Homo sapiens: one gene and its partners. The protein of the gene in region 3 purifies or fractionates together with the protein of the main gene of each other region. This does not show direct contact. Each region holds a gene or a part of one and is shown on either strand. Other genes may lie near its edges.

What was found.
Region 1: the proteins of MAML2 (region 3) and MAML1 purify together in Homo sapiens (affinity purification with western blotting, with the first as the bait; one study listed by BioGRID). This does not show direct contact.
Region 2: the proteins of MAML2 (region 3) and MB purify together in Homo sapiens (affinity purification with mass spectrometry; one large-scale study listed by BioGRID and IntAct). This does not show direct contact.

Annotation. Positions count from the first base shown.
Region 1 is NC_000005.10:179,774,238-179,777,936, forward strand, and holds the end of MAML1 (mastermind-like protein 1), read left to right. Parts: coding exon 1-640; 3' UTR 641-3,046; downstream 3,047-3,699. UniProt on the Homo sapiens protein: Acts as a transcriptional coactivator for NOTCH proteins. Has been shown to amplify NOTCH-induced transcription of HES1. Enhances phosphorylation and proteolytic turnover of the NOTCH intracellular domain in the nucleus through interaction with CDK8.
Region 2 is NC_000022.11:35,614,324-35,618,577, reverse strand, and holds the start of MB (myoglobin), read left to right. Parts: upstream 1-1,248; 5' UTR 1,249-1,320; coding exon 1,321-1,415; intron 1,416-4,254. UniProt on the Homo sapiens protein: Monomeric heme protein which primary function is to store oxygen and facilitate its diffusion within muscle tissues.
Region 3 is NC_000011.10:96,340,396-96,344,440, reverse strand, and holds the start of MAML2 (mastermind-like protein 2), read left to right. Parts: upstream 1-1,245; 5' UTR 1,246-2,545; coding exon 2,546-3,058; intron 3,059-4,045. UniProt on the Homo sapiens protein: Acts as a transcriptional coactivator for NOTCH proteins. Has been shown to amplify NOTCH-induced transcription of HES1. Potentiates activation by NOTCH3 and NOTCH4 more efficiently than MAML1 or MAML3.

The DNA of each region.
Region 1 (3,699 bases), on a different chromosome or scaffold from region 3:
CTCTGGCCTCTCCCAGCAGCACAATAAGGGGACCCTGAACCCTGGTTTAACAAAGCCACCGGTCCCAAGGGTGTCACCAGCCATGGGAGGCCAGAATTCCTCCTGGCAGCATCAGGGAATGCCGAACCTCAGTGGCCAGACCCCAGGGAACAGCAACGTGAGTCCCTTCACTGCAGCCTCCAGTTTCCACATGCAGCAGCAGGCCCACCTGAAAATGTCTAGCCCGCAATTCTCCCAGGCAGTGCCCAACAGGCCCATGGCTCCCATGAGCTCAGCAGCTGCCGTGGGGTCCTTGCTACCCCCAGTGAGTGCACAGCAGAGGACCAGCGCCCCTGCCCCAGCACCACCCCCAACAGCCCCTCAGCAGGGCTTGCCTGGCCTGAGCCCAGCAGGGCCTGAGCTGGGGGCCTTCAGCCAGAGCCCTGCCTCACAGATGGGCGGTCGGGCGGGGCTGCACTGCACCCAGGCCTACCCTGTGCGGACCGCGGGCCAGGAGCTGCCTTTTGCCTATAGCGGGCAGCCAGGTGGCAGTGGGCTCTCTAGTGTGGCTGGACACACCGATCTGATCGACTCCCTGCTGAAGAACAGGACTTCAGAGGAGTGGATGAGTGATTTGGACGACCTGTTAGGGTCTCAGTAATGGAAGGATTTGTAGTGTTTTTAGTGTTCATTCATCCTATATTTTTATTCTCAGATTCAAAGAAAGAGCAACTACTTTGGACCAAAAGCCCATGGCCTGGGGAGCTGGGCAGGTAGAGCCCAAGCTCCAGGTGAGGCCTGGCCCTGGGCAGGGTCTGTGGCTGCGCCCCTCAGGCCAGCAGTTGAGGTCCATCGGGCTGGCCCCAGCCCATCTGCTGGCATCAGTACCTGGTGTTGGGACAGCAGGATAGGGTTCTAAAGGTGGTTTTCTATCCAAACGACCAAAAAACCAACAGTAACACCAGTGAAACCCCACACTGTCGGGCTTATAAAAATCTGTGCCATCATGGTGATTTTATCCAAGACTGCTCCACTTACCCCAGTGCTGGGGACAAGTTTCTGTTGAAACTTTAGATAGCAGAATTATTTGCAATTTGTAGCATAGAAAAGATTTTTAAATTTTTTTACAAAAGGTTTTTAAACAGATTAGGGTAGGTGATGGTTTAAATCAATTAAGTGGCATTGGAAACCTAGGGTTTCCTTTTGATTAAGAGCCTTTTTTGTTTCTGCTCTTTGTCAGCTTTCAGGGGAGAAGGAGGCCACTGGAAAATTATTTCCCTAAGTGCAGGCTGTTGACTGCGTATGCCAAAAAGGGACAGGAGGCATGGGATAGCAGGTCTGGTGACACAGCTAGGGTCTTCCTAGCAGCTCCTCCTCCTCCCTCCCAAGGCCCCCAGGAATCCCTTCCTCCCATGTCCTGGCAGCAGGACCCCAGGCTACATATGGAAGGTAGAGATGTGGGGGTCCTGTATCCTGGAGTATTATGTCTCCCCACCTTCTGCAGTTTTCTCTGAACATGTATGTTGCCCATGGTGGGAGCGTGGTCACTGTGCAGTTGTGCACAGATGTCTTTCCTTTACCGTTGGCCTTTCTGTCTGCCTCTCCTTCCTCTCTGCAGCCCAAATGGAAAACAATTATTTACTCCATTGGAGGGAAAGGAAGAGTCTTAGAATTCCTAAGGGAACCTTAGCATAAAGGTTTTGGGGAAGGAGGCCGTAGGCCGGCCCGGAGGAAGCAATTCCACTTGGTTTGACAACTTCTGCCACTCCCATGTCAGATGACTTGCACTTCTTAAAGAGATTGCTTTATAACACTAAGACATCCTTTCTAAAGATTCAAGTGGACTTGACTAAGCTGAGGGTCCACGAAATAGAATATGACATGTGAGCTGTTTTTGGAAAACGAAGATGGAGAGAGCACTTCCCCGTAACGAAAGCAAAGTGGTAAGCACAGGGTGAGACCCTTTTACACAGAATGGTGGAGAGAAAAGAGAATGCTGAAAAGTGGCTCAGATGCAGAGTGTTCTGTGGAGAAACTGCAGCCCCACTTCTGTTTCCCTGGAGTCTCCCAATGGATCATTCAGGAGTGTCCTATGTGAGAATTGAGCCAAGGAAAATACTCATGCAACCAGCCTGAGTCGCGGTGAGGGGACGAGAGGTTGTACACACATTGGTAGTTATTTTGCACCAGCAGTGCCTTTCTCACTGGGGGTACTTGGACCCTCAGATCTTCTTTTCTAATAGCCATTTGCCACCCCAAGTGGTATGTCGGCCATTTCTCCTTAAAACACCTTCCCTACCTTTCCCATGTACTCAGTTTAGCTCTCAAAGAAGGGGTGAATCATAAAGCCAGTGAAAATTTCACCCTCTGAGGGAGTTCCCCAATCTGAAGGGGAAGAGGGTGACCTCAGCGGCTTTTCTCCCAAAAATCGGCTGAAGGCTGGTTGTGGATCCTTGTTCCTCTCCTGACCCCATCTGGCTGCTGCCCCGTCTCCCACCCCTGTCCCCGGGGCTCGCTGGCCCTGCACTCCGCCTTAGTCCTGGGGCCGGCGACACAGTGGGGGCTCCTCACTTGCTGCAGTGTCATAGCAATAAAATGTGATTCTTGGGGTCCCCCCAGGGAGCTGCCCATGGCTTTATTTATGAACCTGGTTTTCGGGAGTCAGGGGAGGAGATGACTTTGCTTCTGTGCACAGCCCCGTCTTCCAGGAGCCACAACTCAGAAGAAAAGGGTGCTCAGACTTTTGTTATACACATTTGCTTTGTGTAAATAAATGTTTACAATTTTATATGAAAGATGGAATAAGCGCTAGAGCTTCCAACTGTATATTTTTTACTTTTATAGATTTTAAAACTATGATCCTTTATATGTGTGTTTTGGGGGAGCTATGATAAGTTTTATGGCAAACGGTTGGTATTGTTAACTTTTTATTGTCATCAAAAGTTCATAAAAGTCCTATTAATCCCCATATTCTTCTACTGCCCTTAACTCTGGTATACACCAAAAAGAAATCTTTACTTTCCTTGTTTTATCATTATAAAAATAAAGTATTTTGCTAGTATGGAAACAACCTTTGTATTTGACGTCACCTGGGGTCTGCTGGCAGAAGTTTGGGGATTGGTTTTCTTTTGTAATTTAGCTGCTTGCTTTTCTTGGTTTTTTAATTTTTTCTTTTTAAAGAAATGCTTGTCGAGTCATAGATTTAGCTGCTTTCTTATTGCACATTGTTGGGTGGGAGCTGGTTTGGTTGAAGCCTCAGAGGAGCTTCTGTTATCTGCTGATAGATACTAAATTAGAGCTAGCATCACCCTGAGAAAGCAGGCTGGCCCCAGGACTCACGGGCGTCCATGCAGCTGATGGAGGGGAGCTGGACCGGACGACTGTGCTCTCTTAGCTCTAGCATCACCCTGAGAAAGCAGCCTGTCTCCGGGACTCACGGGCATCCATGCGGCTGATGGAGGGAGCTGGGCCGGACGACTGTGCTTCTCGTGCTTCATGTAGAACCCTTAGGTTTGCCCCTGAAGTCTGTCTGCTCCATGTACTATTTAGTTGCTTTTCAGCATAGAGCTTGGTTTTCCCTTTTTTTAATTGTAAGAATGATGTGCTCTGGCATGTCACACTGTGAAAGGGGACCAGATGATGGAGCCTGGACTGAAAGGGTGAATGGGGCCGCTCACCTCAGAACTCTCCCTGCTTTGCTTTGCTGGGAGCAGGGAGCAG
Region 2 (4,254 bases), on a different chromosome or scaffold from region 3:
GATGAGTGAATGCATGGATAGACAAAGAGATGATGGATGGATGAATTAAGGGATGACAGATGGATGGATGGATGAGTAACTGGATGGACAAGTGGATAAATGGATAGATGGTTGAATACCTGAATGGATTGAAGGAGGATGCATGGATGTAAGATAAGGCTAATCATCCTCCACTCTCTTTCTTTGCAAAACCATCCACCCATTTACTCAATAAACATTTATTCAGTTCAAACTTGGCACAAAGCACCATGTGAGGCCCAAGAGATACGTGGGTTAATAAAACAGAGCTCCTGCCCTCCTGAAAACTGCAAAGAAAGGGGCGTGGCTTCCTGAGTTCAAATCCCAACTCTGCCAGCGACTAGTTGTACATCAGTGATGTTTCCCTACTTTCTCTCAATTAAATAGGGATAATGTCAGTACCTATCACATTGGGAGGTCTTGCGGGGATTAAATGAGTTACCAAATGCCAAGTGTTTGGGACAGGGCCTGGCACCCAGCAAAGTCTCTTGTGAGTGCTGGCTGCTATTATCCTAATGGAGAAGATGGCATGAAAACCAGGAAATAGGATGCCCTTTGGGAAGCAATGCAACAGGAACTTACACAAAGAAAGGAAAGGAGGAAGCAATTAGTGGTGTCTCAAAGGAGTATGTCAAGAAAAACTTTTCAGAGGGAAACCTTTGAGCAGGGTCATGAAAACAGGAGTTCTCTAAGAGATTGTGGACTTGCCTGGGACCACCTGGCTATAAGCACAAAACCATCCGGTTCCTTTCTGTCACTTCTGGCTGGGTGAGGGGTCTCTGGCAAAGGGGCAGAAGGTGCGTGAGAGGTTGCGAATGGCCAGGACTGTCCTGGGGCCAGCCGGGGCACCTGGTGGCCAAGCTTAGAAACATGACAGGTCCTCTTGGGAGGGCTGACCGCAGGGAGCGTTGGGTTTCAGGCTGCTGGCGTCGGCTTCTGTGGTGCCCTTTCTGTCGGCTATGAGAGTCCAGACAGTGCCCAACCTCCTCCCCTTCTTTCCACACGCACAACCACCCCACCCCCTGTGGCCTGAGCTGTCCTGCCTCGCCACAATGGCACCTGCCCTAAAATAGCTTCCCATGTGAGGGCTAGAGAAAGGAAAAGATTAGACCCTCCCTGGATGAGAGAGAGAAAGTGAAGGAGGGCAGGGGAGGGGGACAGCGAGCCATTGAGCGATCTTTGTCAAGCATCCCAGAAGGTATAAAAACGCCCTTGGGACCAGGCAGCCTCAAACCCCAGCTGTTGGGGCCAGGACACCCAGTGAGCCCATACTTGCTCTTTTTGTCTTCTTCAGACTGCGCCATGGGGCTCAGCGACGGGGAATGGCAGTTGGTGCTGAACGTCTGGGGGAAGGTGGAGGCTGACATCCCAGGCCATGGGCAGGAAGTCCTCATCAGGTAAAAGGAAGAGATTCCATTGCCCCTGCCACCCACACCCTAAGATCAAGGGTGTTCAGCTGCAAGGTGGAAAGTTTGCACGTGGGGTAGGTCAGTTGGCTGCATTAGTTAAGGGTGTTAGAACGGTCACTTGCTTTTTCTTTGCTTTTAAGTGTCAGGGATTGGACTCAGGAGAGGGAAAGGAGCCATTTCAGGCTGATGTCAGCAGCTGGAGGAAGCATGAGAATCAAACCTAGGATGCTCAGAGTCCACCAGGAAGAATTTTAGAATTATAGACAGTCAGAGTTAACAAGGGTCCTGAGAGATTTTGTACAGCCACCTCTCTTACAGGATGAGGACAAAAAGGGACTGAGAAGGGGAGGACATTTCCAGAGTCACAGCTCATTAAATGCTCTTAAAGTGTCAAGGTTAAGACATGCTCTTCAAGGGGAGACAGATCTGGTTCTAGACTTGGCTCTGCCACTGAGCCACTGGGTGACCTTTGGGAAAGTACTCAACCTCTCGGAGCCTCAATTTCCTCTCCTGTACAGTGAGGGGATATCCTAATATCTATATCCTAGAGGAGATGTGAGAATTAAATAAAATAATGCATGCAAGAGGCCTGGCATGGTTCCTGGCATATACTGAGTCCTAGAAATGTTAGTAGCTATTACTGATGAAGCCCAGGCTAGGGACCTTTCAAAGCATTGCAATTAGAGAACAGAAGATAGAGGCTCATTAGTGACCTTCGATGTTGAGTATGTCTCTAGTTTGAGAGGTCTGAATGATGTGGTCTGCAAGTATATCCTGCCTTCTACCACAAGGGATTCCAGAATACACCAAAGAAAACAAAATTCTGAGGTTTGTAAATAGAGGGTGGCTGTGGTTTGTACATAGAAGCTCATCTCCTCGTTGCCTTCTATCCCAAAGGTGATACACTCTTCTCTTGGCCCCTTCCCTCACCATTCTGAGCTGGTTCCCTCAGAAGTCTAATAGGTTAAGAATCAACGTTTCTGCCAACGGGAGGAAGGAAGTGGGCGCCGGGGTTGCCACAAGTGAATGGATTGTCTTTGGCACTTTAATTTGCAGATTAATTTCTCCTTATTTGTGAGCCAGAGCCAATTTTCCTCTTCCACTCCGTCGTCCTTTGGGTCTCCCTTGGGCTTTACCCATTTCCAGCTTCCGTCTACCTCGGGAGCATGGCTGGTCCTGGAAGCTCCGTTATCTAAAATTTGAGCCGTTGGTGATCCGTGCTAGAAACACTTGAGGAAGAAGAGTTGAGTTTTCTGTTGACTGTAATGGCATCGTAGTGTGTTTATGTCTTTCTTCTCCTGTCCCTGTCATCTGGCTGCAACAGGCCCTGTTGGATTGCACAAAGTGCTCCCCCGACCAACACACACACACAAATTGACATCAACTCCTGGGCCACAGATATGCCATGTGACCTTGGACAAGTCTCTCCACCTCTGGGCCTTATTTCTCTGCTGGTTGAGCGAAGGGATTGTCTTCCATGGTCTCCGAGATCCCGTCCCACGCTCATGCCCTAGAATTCTCTGAGTCCTTGATGCACTTTTGCCTTTGGCGAGGAGGCAGGACAGTCAGGCGTGGAGGTAGGAGACCAGAGTTTGCAGAGCAGAGGTCTTTCCAAGGTGATTTGGGAGCTGCCAGACCTAAGGCAGTGACTTGTACGTCTTGAAAGAGACTCAGGGTGTTGCATCATCAGGGAGGATCACGGAGGTTTGCCGGGGGCCGGGAGCCAGGGATAAGACATAATGCCTAGGGTTGCTGGTCCCTGAAAGGTCCCAGAGGCCTGGTGCCCTGTCACGTCTTAGGTTGTGGGACATGCAGAGACTGTGCCAGCTGGTTCTGCCCTCTCAGTATTTGGGGTACAGGGAGGATGGCCTCCCTGGGGGCAGGGTGGAGGAGGCTCATGCCCAGGACTGCAAATGCCACCCGTGAGAGTTGGCATCTTGACTTTGTTCTAGATACTGACTCTGGATTTTCTAACTGACCTTGAAAGGTTATGTCTCCAATCTTCTGATTGTAAAAGAGGGCAAATTCCATGAAGCCCAGTCTGTAAAACACTGAGGCCTTCACTGCACGTACACAAACATAAAATTCTAGAACACAGAAGCTGGAAGGTCACTTGGAGATTCTGGCTCCAGGAGTGGGGCTTCGGAAGGGAGGGGGCTGCTGAGTGGGCTCCACACCCCTGTTTTTCCTTTCTTTACTCAAACCTTTTTTGTTTTATTTACTTTGGCTGTTTTGGGGAGCGGGGGGAACAAAGGATTTCAAGGTCATAAAATGTTTGAAAATCACCAGTGGTGGTCACTACTTCTCATTACAGGGAGGAACTGGGCCTGAGAGTCTCCACCGGTTAATGGCAGCCACAGGCAGGACCAAAAATTCCTGGGTGATGGTGATGATAATGATAATGATAATGATAATGGTAGAGATGATGAGGAGGAGAAAGACAGCAACCATTTATTCAGCACATACTGATTGCTGGGCTCTGTTTAAGTGTTTCACTCACTGAAGCCTGACAACAATCTTATGAGGTAGATATGATTATGATCACCACATTTAACAGAGAGGTTAAGTAACTTACGCCAAGTCACACAGCAAGTAAGAAAGGAGCTGGAATTCAAATTCAGGCAGCTTGGATCCAGAATCCTTGCTCCTTTTTTTTTTTTTTGAGATGGAGTCTTGCTGGGATTACAGGTGCATGCCACCATGCCTGGCTAATTTTTGTATTTTTAGTAGAGACTAGGTTTCGCCATGTTGGCCAGGCTGGTCTCGAACTCCTGACCTCAGGTGATCTGCCCGCCTTGGCCTCCCAAAGTGCTGGGATTACAAGCCA
Region 3 (4,045 bases):
ATTATCCTGTCTCAGCCTCCCGAGTAGCTGGGATTACAGGCGTATGACACCATGCTCAGCTAATTTTTGTAGTTTTAGCAGAGACGGGGTTTCACCATATTGGCCAGGCTGGTCTTGAACTCTTGAACTCAGGTAATACACCTGCCTTGGCCTCCCAAAGTGCTGGGATTACAGGCGTGAGCCACTGTGCCTGGCCAGGATTGGATATTTTAAAGGTTGGATCACTTGAAAATGGGGGAACAATGATCTGTGTGAGATCTATTTGGTTTCTATTATTAAACTTCTTGAAACTCAGAGCCAGGTGCAGTAGTGGTGAGTACCTGTAGTTCCAGCTACTCAGGAGGCTCAAGTGGGAGGATCACTTGAGCCCAGGAGTTCAACTCCAGCCTGGGCAACATAACAAGACTCCATTAAAAGAAAAAAAAAAAAAAAACTTTTTGAAACTCAGCTGCTACACATTGACTTTCCTCATTGTATATGTGCACCAGGTAGCTAAGGATACTTCAGGTCTTATATTTGGTTTTTCATAGGCAATCATGCATTCCCAAAAAAAAAGCGTTTTTTTCTAGAACTGGTATCGATAATTGTATCATTCTCATAAAATATTTTATTTATCCCAACTGATTTGCCTGTGATCACCCAGACTCACTTATCCAGAGACACACAAATGGGCAGGCAGGTAGACAAACGCTACACCTGCCTGCCCTTTAGGAGCTAACAATGTGATTACCTCTCCTCTCCACGCGCAACCCCTTCCGCCCTCAACACACACATTCATATCTTCCTTATTCTATTAATGAACATTTCCTCGGTGCTCACACAGCTCGTGCTAGGTTGCTCAGTGGTGTCATTTACAATATACTGAAAAATGAAAATGATATCCTCAGCGGGGCGTAATGTAGGGCTGAAAGGGAAAACACATTCCTGGCCCGGAATTTCTTAAACATTTAGAGCTGGTGAAATGGTTGTGTAGAGGTTGGGGAATTTCCCCAGCCTTCCCCGCTTAACCGAGTCTGATGCTGAGCTGAGCCAGGGCAGCTGAGATGCGCAGGGCTTGGGATTTACCTCTTCAGCCACTGGGAGGCCCTCTGCGTTCCCCTTTCCCCGGTGCCTGGCTGCGATTACTCACTCGCGCAGTGGCACCAGCCTTCCACCAGGGAGCCTCGAACGAGCTCTCCCGCCCTCTCCCCGCCCCCCCACCCCCATCTGCAGCTTGCTGGCTCTCTCTTTCTCCTTCTCTGTCTCACTCTCTCTCTTTCTCTCCCTCTCCTATCGGAGCACAATGAAAGCCTGTGTATCGCCGTGACTCCGGGCGCGAGCCAGTGTCAGCAAAGCGGCTAACAACAGACGAGAAAGAGAAAGGAAAATACAAGCTACTTTTTTTTTCCATCTATAAAGCGGAGCAAATACAGGAGATAGAACCAGATTGCTTATTGCGAGTCCAGACCCTCAGATCCACTGGCCGGGGATGGAATGTACAAAAGTGGACAGAAAAGTGGCTGGACATGACTCGGTGCAATTTGCTGGAAGTTTGTAAGTTTGACCATCGTTTGTAAATTACTCTCGGAAGAGTTTGTCTCTCTTGATACTGTATTAGAATAGAGCCGGGGGTGAGGAATAGAAACGTAAGCGGGAAAGAAAAAAATGTGTTGAAGGATCTCTCTCAGTGGCTAGCGACTTAAGATTGCTTTTCATTTAAGGCTAGGAAACCTTAGAGGGAGTGAGGATTTTACCGGTGATTGGATTAGCTGAAGAAAAAAGCATGGTCCAAAAGTCCAATTACTGACATTGTTAACAGTTGAAAAGCTGTCTCCCTCTTTTGGGAGAAGACAACATCCTACAGTACCCCAAAGAGGAGAAAACACCGGAGCGAAAGGAAAGGGAGGAAAAATTAAAAGCCAAAAGACAGTCTCCCTTGATTTTTGCACATTTTGAACAGTGACTTAAACATCTTCTGAAACAGCACTGTTTTGTTTTGTTTTGGTTTTTTATTTAACCTGAGGAAAAGTCAAGGCTGCTGGTTACATAGACATGGTAGAAATGTGTTTCTCTGCAGAAACATCCCCATAAAGAATTGTCGGAAACAACTAGGTGAGGGGGAGTCCTCTCTATTAATACCTCTCTCAATACCTTTTGCTGTGTGTTTCTGTCTCTTGCTGGACAATCCCTGAATTCTTGATCTAACCCCCAGATCGTGTGTTTACAAAGTACCTAGTGGCTCTTGTCAGCTTGGTGGAGGAAAAAAAATCCACCAACTCTGTCCAACTTCTCCAGAGCTGTCAAATGCAATTAGAGTAAGTTAATCAGGGTTTGTTTCCAACTTATCCTCCCCCCAGTTGGTTTCTATTCTTTCTCCCCACCCTCTTTTTACTAACTCCCCTCCCCCACAACTTCTCCACGGCTCCCCCACAACCTCTGAAGACCTCTATTCATGTGGCCCTGAACACTGAGCTCACATTGTCAAAAACAGACTTGCCTGCAATAGCCAGCAGTAGCCTCTTTCCACCTCACCATCCCAGAGGCAGCAATCATTGTGTCCGGTAAGATGGGGGACACAGCGCCCCCGCAGGCCCCCGCAGGAGGGCTAGGGGGGGCCTCTGGGGCGGGGCTCCTTGGAGGGGGCTCAGTCACCCCGAGAGTGCACAGTGCTATCGTGGAGCGCCTCCGGGCTCGGATCGCTGTCTGCCGCCAACACCACCTGAGCTGTGAAGGACGATATGAACGAGGTAGGGCCGAGAGCTCAGACCGGGAAAGAGAAAGCACCTTGCAGCTCCTGAGCCTTGTACAGCATGGCCAGGGGGCAAGGAAAGCTGGCAAACACACCAAGGCCACCGCCACTGCTGCCACCACTACAGCCCCTCCACCGCCCCCTGCTGCCCCTCCTGCGGCCTCCCAAGCAGCAGCAACAGCAGCCCCACCGCCCCCACCAGACTATCACCATCACCACCAGCAGCACCTGCTGAACAGTAGCAATAATGGTGGCAGTGGTGGGATAAACGGAGAGCAGCAGCCGCCCGCTTCAACCCCAGGGGACCAGAGGAACTCAGCCCTGATTGCGGTAAGCACCTGGCTTTCTCATGGTTCTGGCTGTGGTCCTGTGACCTTTTGTGAGGGTAGAGTTTGCTTTGGCCTAAGGTAGAGTGGATGGCAATGAAAAAGGCCAAGATGTCACCTGACTACCTTAAAGGCCATTGGGTGTGTTCGGGTGGTTTCATGCGCCTACTCATCATGTTCTGTTGGTGCTCACTCCTGGGTTTTCCTTCGCTTATAGGATATTCCTTAACTGATAAGAAGCCTGAGTTTTCCAGAGGCTCTCTGGGGTCCACATCTTATAAAAGAAGAGGCTACCAGCTGGCAAGATCTGAGCCACTGAGGAAGGTTCTATCTCATGGATCCTCCAGCTTTGGCCAGCCAGCTCTGATTAGGCCCCCAAGCCATTTTTCAGCCCCAAAGCATTTATCAGCCCAGCTGGCCTTTATTAAAGCCTTTTTCTCCTTGCCCCATTTCCCCTCTCCCTTTTGAAGTGACCCCCTTCTTCTTCGCTTAAGAGAACATAAATGGTAAGCTGTAACAAATAGCAAATTCCCCGAATGTCCCCTCAGTCAAAAACAAAATTTGGGGAAAATATCCCAAAGAGAGACTAGGGAGGCACTGTTTCTTAAGAGGCCTACTCTCTGATTCCCTCTAGACTCTCTCACTCCTGAGCCACATCTCGATTATTTTCCCAAGCACTCCAGTCCAATCCAGTAATGCTCCCTTAGAGCATTCGTTAAGCAGACAGGCACGAAGCAGCTATTTACACAGATCATCATCCTAGGAAATACCTTGTCTTCAGCCACTCCTGGTGATAGGATATCAAACCCAAAAGTTCTGATTAAGTTTCTGGCTGGAAGTTCTTCCCCAGAGGCACAGACACACACCATCCCAGAGGAGTATCCCTTGGATCATTGATTCTCAGTGCCAGTCCTGGTCAGGTGACTGCCTGCTGTTTGCAGGCTTCCCCCCAAAGCTGCTGGACCAGTGGCCTCTGGTGGAAGGTAGAACC